2 separate regions of the Homo sapiens genome follow, and region 1 is linked to region 2. The links come from fine-mapping of genetic effects on gene expression. A gene starts in region 2. The other region holds a variant in brackets. All regions are shown on one strand. Distances are from middle to middle. Region 1 overlaps F2 (coagulation factor II, thrombin). Region 2 holds the start of F2 (coagulation factor II, thrombin).

The links.
Region 1: its variant is fine-mapped to the expression of F2 in cerebellum (GTEx, PIP above 0.99).

The regions. Positions count from the first base shown.
Region 1 is chr11:46,737,884-46,743,256 of GRCh38, forward strand. It overlaps F2 (coagulation factor II, thrombin), which reads left to right. Exons shown (of 14, transcript NM_000506.5): 13 at 1,165-1,235; 14 at 1,382-1,623. The coding sequence ends at 1,525. It overlaps CKAP5 (cytoskeleton associated protein 5), which reads right to left. Exons shown (of 44, transcript NM_001008938.4): 44 at 5,165-5,373. Among named protein-coding and RNA genes, the nearest start is that of MIR5582, 13 kb to the right of the region's middle. The variant C/T (reference allele first, on the strand shown) is at 2,709.
Region 2 is chr11:46,716,071-46,721,443 of GRCh38, forward strand. F2 (coagulation factor II, thrombin) reads left to right here and starts at 3,143. Exons shown (of 14, transcript NM_000506.5): 1 at 3,143-3,244; 2 at 3,632-3,792; 3 at 4,453-4,477; 4 at 4,720-4,770. The coding sequence starts at 3,166.

The DNA of each region.
Region 1 (5,373 bases), 22 kb after region 2:
AGTGCAGTGGCACAGTCATAGCTCACTGCAGCCTTGAACTCCTGGGCTCAAGCAATCCTCTTCTTGCTTCAGCCTCCCACGTAGCTAGGATCAGAGGTACATGCCACCATGTCCGGCTAATTTTTTTTTTTCGAGACAGAGTCTTGTTCTGTCGCTCAGGCGGTAGTGCAGTGGTGCAATCCCGGCTCACTGCAACCTCCACCTCCACCTCCCAGGTTCAAGCAATTCTACCTCAGTCTCCTGAGTAGCTGGGATTATAGGCGCACACCAACATGTCTGGCTAATTTTTGTATTTTTAGTAGAGACAGGGTTTCACCACGTTGGCCAGGCTGGTCTTAAACTCCTGACTTCATGATCCGCCCGCCTTGGCCTCCCAAAGTGCTGAGATTACAGGTGTGAGCCACAGCACCTAGTGAAGGTGTGGTTTTTTTGTGTAGGTTTTACTGTTGTTAGTGTTGTTCTGTATTGTTTGTAGAGGATACGTGGGGAGATTTGGATAAAAGCAACTATCATTATTATCCTCATCAGACTTGTAGGTCTAACTTTTTAATTTTTTAATTTTTAATTTAAATTTTTTTCTTGGTCTTTTATCATTAATTAATTTTTTCGAGACAGGGTCTCACTCTGTTGCCCAGGCTGGAGTGTGGTGACATGATCACGGCTCACTGCAGCCTTAACCTCCCAGGCGCAAGTGATCCTCCTCTCTTAGCCTCCCGAGTAGCTGGGACTCCAGGCATGTGCCACCATGCCCAGCTAATTTTTTGTAGAGAGAGGGTTTTGCCATATTGCCCAGGCTGGTCTTGAACTGCTGAGCTCAAGTGATCCACCCGGCTTGGGCATGAGCCACCTCCCCTGGTCTGGTCCAACTTTTTAAAAGCATTATTCTGCCTGTTGGGTGGAGAATAGACTGTAGGTGGGCAAAGAATGAAGGAAACTAGTGGGTTCAGGAGCTCGAGCTAGAAGTGGTGAGAAGGGTTTGGATTTGGGGTCTATGCTGAAGGTAGAGCCGACAAGATTTGCTAGGATTGGATGGGTAGGGTGAGGAAGTGGGGACAGCAAGAATGACTGGAGGGGTAAGTGGACTCTCACCAGCTGTGTCTCGTGAAGGGGCGTGGCTGGGCTATGAGCTATGCTCCTGAGCACAGACGGCTGTTCTCTTTCAAGGTTACAAGCCTGATGAAGGGAAACGAGGGGATGCCTGTGAAGGTGACAGTGGGGGACCCTTTGTCATGAAGGTAAGCTTCTCTAAAGCCCAGGGCCTGGTGAACACATCTTCTGGGGGTGGGGAGAAACTCTAGTATCTAGAAACAGTTGCCTGGCAGGGGAATACTGATGTGACCTTGAACTTGACTCTATTGGAAACCTCATCTTTCTTCTTCAGAGCCCCTTTAACAACCGCTGGTATCAAATGGGCATCGTCTCATGGGGTGAAGGCTGTGACCGGGATGGGAAATATGGCTTCTACACACATGTGTTCCGCCTGAAGAAGTGGATACAGAAGGTCATTGATCAGTTTGGAGAGTAGGGGGCCACTCATATTCTGGGCTCCTGGAACCAATCCCGTGAAAGAATTATTTTTGTGTTTCTAAAACTATGGTTCCCAATAAAAGTGACTCTCAGCGAGCCTCAATGCTCCCAGTGCTATTCATGGGCAGCTCTCTGGGCTCAGGAAGAGCCAGTAATACTACTGGATAAAGAAGACTTAAGAATCCACCACCTGGTGCACGCTGGTAGTCCGAGCACTCGGGAGGCTGAGGTGGGAGGATCGCTTGAGCCCAGGAGGTGGAGGCTGCAGTGAGCCACTGCACCCCAGCCTGGGTGACAGAGTGAGACCCTGTCCCAAAAGAATCCACTATCTATCTTCAGAGCAGGGCCAGGTGAGAGGAAAGATGGCAGGTTGAATTTACAGGCATTAAAGATGTTCCACCCTCTGGGTTTTAATGGATTATCTCATTTAATCCTCACAAGAGGTAGGTGAGTAAACTGAGATTTGGAGAAGTACCTTGTCCAAAGTCACATGGCTAAGAAAGCTCAAAGTAGGACTTCAAATATAGAAAATATTGAGTGAGGACGGTGCTTTTTTAGTTAACTCCCTACATCTTCCCTTGTATCATTAAAATGATATCAGATCAGGTAGGGCATGGTGGCTCACACCTGTAATCTCAGCAATTTAGGAGACTAAGGTTGAGGCTAGGAATGCGAGATCAGTCTGGGCAATGTGGTGAGACCCCAAAAAATAAAATTAGCTAGGCGTGGTGGCATGTGCCTGTAGTCAAGGTTACTTGGGAGGATCACTTGAGCCCAGGAGGTTGAGGCTGCAGTGAGCCATGATCATGTCACTACACCTGCACTGCAGCCTGGGTGACAGTGAAACCCTGTTTATAAAAATCAGGGCTGGGCACGGTGGCTCAAGCCTGTAATCCCAGCACTTTGGGAGGCTGAGGTGGATGGATCACAAGGTCAGGAGATTGAGACCATCCTGGTGAACACGGTGAAACCCTGTCTCTACCAAAAATACAAAAAATTAGCCAGGCGTGGTGGTGGACGCCTGTAGTCCCAGCTACGTGGGAGGCTGAGGCAGGAGAATGGCATGAACCTGGGAGGTGGAGCTTGCAGTGAGACAAGATTGCACCACTGCACTCCAGCCTGGGCGACAGAGCGACTCTGTCTCAAAAAGAAGAAGAACCAACCATGCATACCAAAATCCA[C/T]AGATGCTCAAATCTCTTATATAAAATGGCACAGTTTACATATAACCTATGCACATCCTCCCATATACTTCATTTTTAAAATTTATTTTTATCTTTTTGAGTTGGAATTTTGCTCATTGCCCAGGCTGGAGTGCAATGGTGCGATCTCGGCTCACTGCAATCTCCGCCTCTTAGGTTCAAGTGATTCTCCTGCCTCAGCCTCCCGAGTAGCTGGGATTACAGGTGCCCGCCACCACGCCTGGCTAGTTTTTGTATTTTTAGTAGAGATGGGGTTTCACCGTGTTGGTCAGGCTGGTCTCAAACTCCTGACCTCAGGTTATCCACCCATCGGGGCCTCCCAAAGTGTTGGGATTACAGACATGAGCCACCCTGCCCGGCCTTCCCATATACTTCAAATCATCTCTAGATGACTTACACCCAATAGAACGTAAATACTATGTAAATAGTTATACTGTATTATTTTAAAATTTGTATTATTTTTATTGTTTTCTTTCCCCACAAATATTTTCAATCTGCAGTTGGTTGAATCTGCAGATGCAAAACCCACAGATCTGGAAGGCCACCTGTATATTAAAAGGTGTATATAACGACATTACTTACCTCATACGGTTATGAGGATTAAATGAAAGAACTTACATGGTGCCTTAGCACAATGCCTAGTGCCTAGTAAGCTGTGAATCACTACCACTCGTATTCTCACTATTGCCTGGGAACTGGACCGGGCATTGGGCCTGTTGAAAGTTCCTCTGCCGCTTACCTCGTCCCTCTCTTGGGCCCTGGAAATAGCCCATCAGTGGGGTAGTTGCTTCCTGGAATGTTTCCTCACACAGCAGTTCCCAGCTGGAACAATTTATTTTTCCAAGAAATGGGACCTCTAAGTTATAAGAGTCATGGGCTGGGCATGGTGGCTCACGCCTGTAATCCCATCACTTTGGGAGGCTGAGGCTGGTGGATCACCTGAGGTCAGGAGTTGGAGACCAGCCTGGCCAACATGGTAAAATCCCGTCTCTACTAAAAATACAAAAACTAGCCGGGTGTGGTGGTGGGCACCTGTAATCCCAGCTTCTCAGCTGCTTGGGAGGCTGAGGCAGGAGAATTGGCTGAACTCAGGAGGCAGAGGTTGTAGTGAGGAGAGAGGCATGCCACTGCATGCCATCCAGCCTGAGCGACACAGCAAGAGTCCCTTGCAAAAAAAAGAATCATAGAACTTCAAAGATACCCTTTCAGAGCACATTCTTCACGGTTACTGTTGGCAGAGGTCACAGGTGTGGGATGGAGCATGGCTCCGTCTTGAGAAGTCTCATCCATGAGCTCAGGGAAAGAATGAAGATCAACGTCTGCCTCAGGCACAGGATAGTGGAGTGGAGCAGGGAAACCCTGTGGCTACAGTACCTGGCCTAGGATCTTCTAACGTGGTTTTCCACGGGAAGGGACCTGAGATAGGGATCTTTAGCACCCTCCTCATAACGTTTTTTTTTTTTTTTCTCATTTTTCAACACATCAGAAAACAAACAGGACAGAGTTCCTTGGCCTCATTCTTTGGTTCTGGTTGACTGAAAGGCAGTGAGCTTGCAGGATTTGGCAGCCCAGGGCATCAACTCGATCAAGGGGGAAGGGATTCAGAATTACTTGTGACATGCAGGACCTGCTTTTTAAACAAGAACACACATTCTCATAAGTCTGTTTTCTTCCGACATAGCGGTCAGTGTTGTAAGCTCTAGGGACTTGGGTTTTTCCAGTCAGCTGTGCTAATTCCAGACAGGAGTACAGCCACTCTTTTTTTTCCTCTTCTTTTGTTTCCCTCCTCTTTTTTGAGACAAGGTCTTGCTCTGTTGCCCAGGCTGGAGTGTAGTGGAGTGATCACGGCTCACTGCAGCCTTGACCTCCTGGGCTCAGGTGATCCTCCCACCTCAGCCTCCCAAGTAGCTGGGACTACAGGCTTGAGCCACTATACCCAGCTAATTTTTGTATTTTTTTGGTAGAGCCATGTTGCCCATGTTGGTCTTGAACTCCTGGGCTCAAGTGATTCACCCACCTTAGCCTCCCAAAATGCTACGGTTGTATGAGTGAGCCACCAGGCCCAGCCTTTGTAGCCATTCTTTCTAAATATGTCTTTCCACTATAGCAGCAAACGCCTCCATCATCCCTTCAGTGAACAAATACCCACTCCCATGTTCCCACTATAAAGGAGAGACAAGTTTAATTTCAGGAGGCTCCGGGGCCACCTGAAAACGATGACTGGAACCTTTACAGGATTAATCTTCCATCAATCTTTCATTTCTTGGACATCAATTGAATTGAAGGTGGGCTACAATAGGAAAGTTCCTTTGAACTTTATAACTGCCCAAAATCTCCTCCTGAATCCAGAACCTTTTCATCCTGAAGAGTTTTTCTGACTGTGGAGGGAGGTCCTGTGGAATTTATTCCAGAGGTGAATACTCAGCTCACTTTCTCATCCTTACTCTGACTGAATGTGAAGCAACTGTTAGCCTGGACCAAAAGAGACTCATACAACCAAGCAGCAAACCACTAAGATTTCCCAAACTCCATTAGTCAAATGAACACAAATCTAGTTGTAGTGTGAGAACCACTGAAGCCCAGCCAATCTCTGGGCGCAATCTTGTGTGCCTTTGGTCAGCAAAGTGGTAGGATGCCCAAGAGCTTC
Region 2 (5,373 bases):
TCCGTAAACTTTTCATAAAGCATCAGTGATTTCACCATTCTTCCACCCAAGCTTCACCGTAAATTTGTTGTTTGTTCTTGCTTCAATTTCAGCAGAATTCATTTAGCTCTGATAAGGGCTCGCTTCAAACTGATGTCTTATCCTTCTTAGTGCCTCAAACTACATCCTGTTCACTCATGTTATAGCAAGTTAGTGTGAGTTTATTTTGGTGCACAAAAATTTTTTTAAATCCATGCAGTCTTTTTTCATAATACGCATTTTCCATGAACTTTTCGAAGACCCCTTGTAGATGTCTGTTGTTTAAACCACCCAGTTTACAGTAATTTTTTTTTTTTTTTGAGATGAAGTCTTGCTCTGTCGCCCAGGCTGGAGTGCATTGGCACACTCTCGGCTCACTGCAACCTCTGCCTCCTGGGTTCAAGCAATTTTTCTGTCTCAGTCTCCCGAGTAGCTGGGATTACAGGTGTGTGCCACCATGCCTAGCTAATTTATGTGTTTTTAGTAGAGACGGGGTTTCACTATGTTGGCCAGGCTGGTCTCGAACTCCTCACCTTGTGATCGGCCCGCCTCGGCCTCCCAAAGTATTGGGATTACAGGCGTGAGCCACTGCACCTGGCCTACAGTAATTTTATAGCAGCCCAGGCTAAGATAGCCATTTCTGGGTATAAGAATGTCATATACTGAACAGGCCTGCAACTGTGAGTAAAAGTCTGCAAAGAGGCCGGGCAGTGGCTCATACCTGTAATCCCAGCACTTTGGGGGGCCGAGGCAGGTGGATCACCTGAGGTCAGCAGTTCGAGACCAGCCTGACCAACATGGTGAAACCCCATCTCTACTAAAAATACAAAATTAGCTGGGCGTGGTAGTGCATGCTTGTAATCCCTAGCATGCACTTGGGAGCTACTTGGGAGGCTGAGGCAGGAGAATCACTTGTACTCAGGAGGCCGAGGTTGCAGTGAGCTGAGATCACGCCACTGCACTCCTTTCTGGGTGACAGAGTGAGACTCCATCTCAAAAAAACAAAACAAAACAAAACAAAAACAAACAAAAAAACCCAACAGGTAGGTAGCAGTGGTTCACGCCTGTAATCCCCACTTTGGGAGGCTAAAGTGGGCAGATCACCTGAGGTCAGGAGTTCACGTCCAGCCTGGGCAACATGGTGAAACTCTGTCTCTACAAAAATACAAAAATTAGCCAGGCATGATGGCGGGTGCCTGTAGTTCCAGCTATTCGGGAGGCTGAGGCAGGAGAATCGCTTGAACCTAGGAGGTAGAGGTTGCAGTGAGCCGAGTTCACGCTATTGCACTCCAGCCTCCATCTCAAAAACAAAACAACAAAAACCCAAAATATATATTATAATTTTATTTTATTTATTCAATTTTATTTTATTTTATTTTATTTTTCTAGGAACAGGTCTCATTCAGGCCAGGCATGGTGGCTCACGCCTGTAATCCCAGCACTTGGGAGGCCGAGGTGGAGGTGGGCGGATCACCTGAGGTCAGGAGTTCGAGACCATCCTGGTCAATGTGGCGAAACCCCATCTCTACTAAAAATACAAAAATTAGCCAGGTGTGGTGGCACACGCCTGTAATTCCAGCTACTTGGGATACTGAGTCAGGAGAATCACTTGAACAGGGAGATGGAAATTGCAGTGAGCCGAGATTGTTCCACTGCACTCCAGCCTGGGTGACAGGGCGAGACTCCGTCTCAAAAAAAAAAAAAAAAAAGAAAGAAAGAAAGAAAGAAAGAAACAGGATCTTACTCTGTTACCCAGGCTGGAGTACAGTGGTGCAATCATAGCTCACTGCAGCCTGGAACTCCTGGGCTCAAGTGATCCTCCTGCCTCAGCCTCCTCAGTAGCTCAGACTGCAGGCATGCACCACCATTCCCAGCTAATTTTTAATTTTTTTTTGGTAGAGATGAGGGTCTTGCTATGTTGCCCAGGCTGGTCTCAAACTCCTGGCCTCAAGCGATCCTGCCATGTCGGCCTCCCAAAGTGTTGGGATTACAAGTGTGAGCCACTATGCCTGGCCTAAAAATATATATATGAAAATATATAAGAAATGGGCCTCCCAGGAATTAAGGTGTTTGCGGGAGTCCTGGTCCCCAGTTTTTCTGCCAACACTCCCTGTTCCCACACATGACCTGGTCCAGACCCCAAACAGCCAGGCCCAAAGGACAGGTGAGGCGAGGCGAGAACTTGTGCCTCCCCGTGTTCCTGCTCTTTGTCCCTCTGTCCTACTTAGACTAATATTTGCCTTGGGTACTGCAAACAGGAAATGGGGGAGGGACAGGAGTAGGGCGGAGGGTAGGGTAGGACCAGAAGCCTCTCTAGGCCTGCCATGGGGCAGGCAGCCAGGGAGAAGGAGGGCCCCTCAGTGGAGACCCAGGGATTTCAGTAGCCCCTGTTCCGGGACAGGCGCAGGTCCTGGGAGGTGACAGAAGATAGACTAAAGGCCCAAGAGTCCCTGGACCTGACTCCTCCCAGGCAGCTGCCACACACAAACACACCTCCAGGCACCCTGGACAGGAAGGAGGAGAAATGGGCCCCTCCTCCAGTGGCTGAGAAGCTGGGGCAAATGTTGGCTGTTCCTATCCCTGGTGCATCCCATGGCGAGGGGCAACTTCCATCAGGCCACACCTTTTATCTTTGTCTCTATTTTTGATATCTGTGTATTATGATTATACAAACCCCCACATTGGCCTATATGTGCAGATCTGATTAAGAACTTACGATATTCCATGGACATTCCATTCCTAATCTCCTTTAGTCCTCACAACAAAGTATTATTCCCATTGTATAGATGAGGAAACTGAGGCACACAGAGATGACAAGCAACCACCGCTATATGTTAGGATTCGAAGGAGCTCCAGGAAAGTCTCATAGCCCCACTGGCCAGAATGGGCTAAATCTCAGAGGGGGAGGGTGGGAGATGGGGGTGACAGTGACCTTTTTTGTGACTCCTCCTAGACCATCCATCCCTGCTCCCAGGAGGACCTGTCCTCCCAGATGGTGGAGATGGACAGGAGGACTATCTACCCACCCGTCCCCACGGCCCTGACCCTCTGACCTCACCCTCTCCGCTGATTTCTTCATGTTAGTTCAACATTAACCCAGAGGGGTCAGGACAGACAATTCCTCAGTGACCCAGGAGCTGACACACTATGGCGCACGTCCGAGGCTTGCAGCTGCCTGGCTGCCTGGCCCTGGCTGCCCTGTGTAGCCTTGTGCACAGCCAGCATGGTAAGGGAGTGCTTGCAGGCTGGAACAGGCTGGAGGACTGGGGTGTGGGCCCATGGGCTGGGGTCTCCTGGCTGGACAGAGCACACAGAGCTGGCCCCTAAGTAGGTCTCAGCCCCAGGCGGCCAGCTTAGGGAAGAAGTCAGGAGCTCAGGGCTGGAAAGAGAATGGCTGCTTCTCTCTTCCAATATAGGGAGCAGGCTGGGGGCAAGGGGCAGTGTAGGAGGGGCACAGGGGGCCACATTTAGCAGCCTTCCAGGCACTTCCACCAGCCCAGACAGCCTCTCTCAGAAGCCAGCAGGGGAGGGTGGGCTTGCTTCATGCCCCCAGAATGGCCAAGACTGCCTGTTCCTGAGGCCGCTGTCCCATGACCCCCCCACCGCCTTACAGTGTTCCTGGCTCCTCAGCAAGCACGGTCGCTGCTCCAGCGGGTCCGGCGAGCCAACACCTTCTTGGAGGAGGTGCGCAAGGGCAACCTGGAGCGAGAGTGCGTGGAGGAGACGTGCAGCTACGAGGAGGCCTTCGAGGCTCTGGAGTCCTCCACGGCTACGGTGAGCCTGGGCTGCTCGGACGGTGCCGGGGCCTCAGACCGGGCCCAACTCTAGACACTTCCACAGAGAAGCAAGCGAGGAACGCCACAGCCCCTTCGCTGCTCACAGCCTCATTTCAACTCTGAGCCCCTCCTCACAGGGCTGGCAAGAGGAGCGGCCTCAGCCTTTCCTGGGGGTCTCTGTGCCTGGACTGTGTCCCTGTGCAGCTCCATGACATGGGGAGGCCTCCACAGTCTTCAGACATCCACCTGCCCTGGAGCTCTGTGTCCACATGGCCTCCTCAGCGGCAGACTCCCACACCACCCTTGAGGGGTGGGACTCTGGGGAGGCCACCACAAGCCCCCGGGCTCAAGACTCAGTGTTCCTGGAGCTCTGTGTCGCCTTTCCTGTCTGTAGGGCTCTGCCAGGGTCCCACTGCCCCCTCTCCTCCCATCTCCCCCAGCCTCTTTCAGTCTCGGTGTGTGTGTTGGAGGAACTCCCCTATCCTCAAATATTCTTCTCCTTTTGGAAACAAAAGTAGGAAACTCTGCCACAAACCTCCCCAGAGCCTGCCCCCTGCGTGACCAGGGTAAAGGAAAGTGTGAGGAGGAGACATAACATTTACTAAAACAACACAAAACAGGAGCTGCCGTAGCCTCACTCCCAGCCCTTGTTTTTCAGGATGTGTTCTGGGCCAAGTACACAGGTGAGCACCGGGAAGGATTTGCCCCAGGAAGGGAGGCCTGGGGACCCCAGTGAGAGAATTCTACCCAGAGAATCTTCTGCTGCACCTAGCCATCCACCCATCCACCCCTTCCCCACTCCTTCCTTGGTCCCTCCCATCTGTTCATCCATCTTTCTGTTTCTCACCAACATCCCATCCACCCTGACTCCAGCTCATCCTGGCCATACCCCAATCCCAAAGGTAAACACCTGGGTCTTTTCCAGCTTGTGAGACAGCGAGGACGCCTCGAGATAAGCTTGCTGCATGTCTGGAAGGTGAGCAACTGACACGGGTTTGGGGAGCAGGACATGGAGGGGAGCCTGGGAGAAGAGCTCAGGGGTGGGTTTGGAGTGTGGCTGGTGGAGGCCGAGGCAGTCCCCAGCATCTGACATTGCTCCCATTCCTGGGGTCAAGATGTCTCTTTGTACCTGGCTCTGTGTCTGGCATGCGAACGAATGAATGAATGAATGGACTAATGAATTAATGTTTTTTTTTTTGAGACAGAGTCTCGCTCTGTTGCCCAGGCTGGAGTGCAGTGGCACGATCTTGGCTCACTGTAAACTCCGCCTCCCGGGTTCAAGCAATTCTCTGCCTCAACCTCCCAAGTAGCTGGGATTACAGGTGCTCGCCACCACGCCTGGCTAATTTTTGTATTTTTAGTAGAGACGGGGTTTCACCATGTTGGCCAGGCTGGTCTTGAACTCCTGACCTCGTGATCCACCCACCTCGGCCTCAAAGTGCTGGGATTATAGAAGTGAGCCACCGCGCCTGGCCATGAATTCATGTTTAAGGCTTCATTCTCCTTTGCCTGACCCGAGTCTCTGCCCCCACCTAGTCAGAGCTTTGATGATGTCACATTCCCCTTCTAGCTTTAGGTG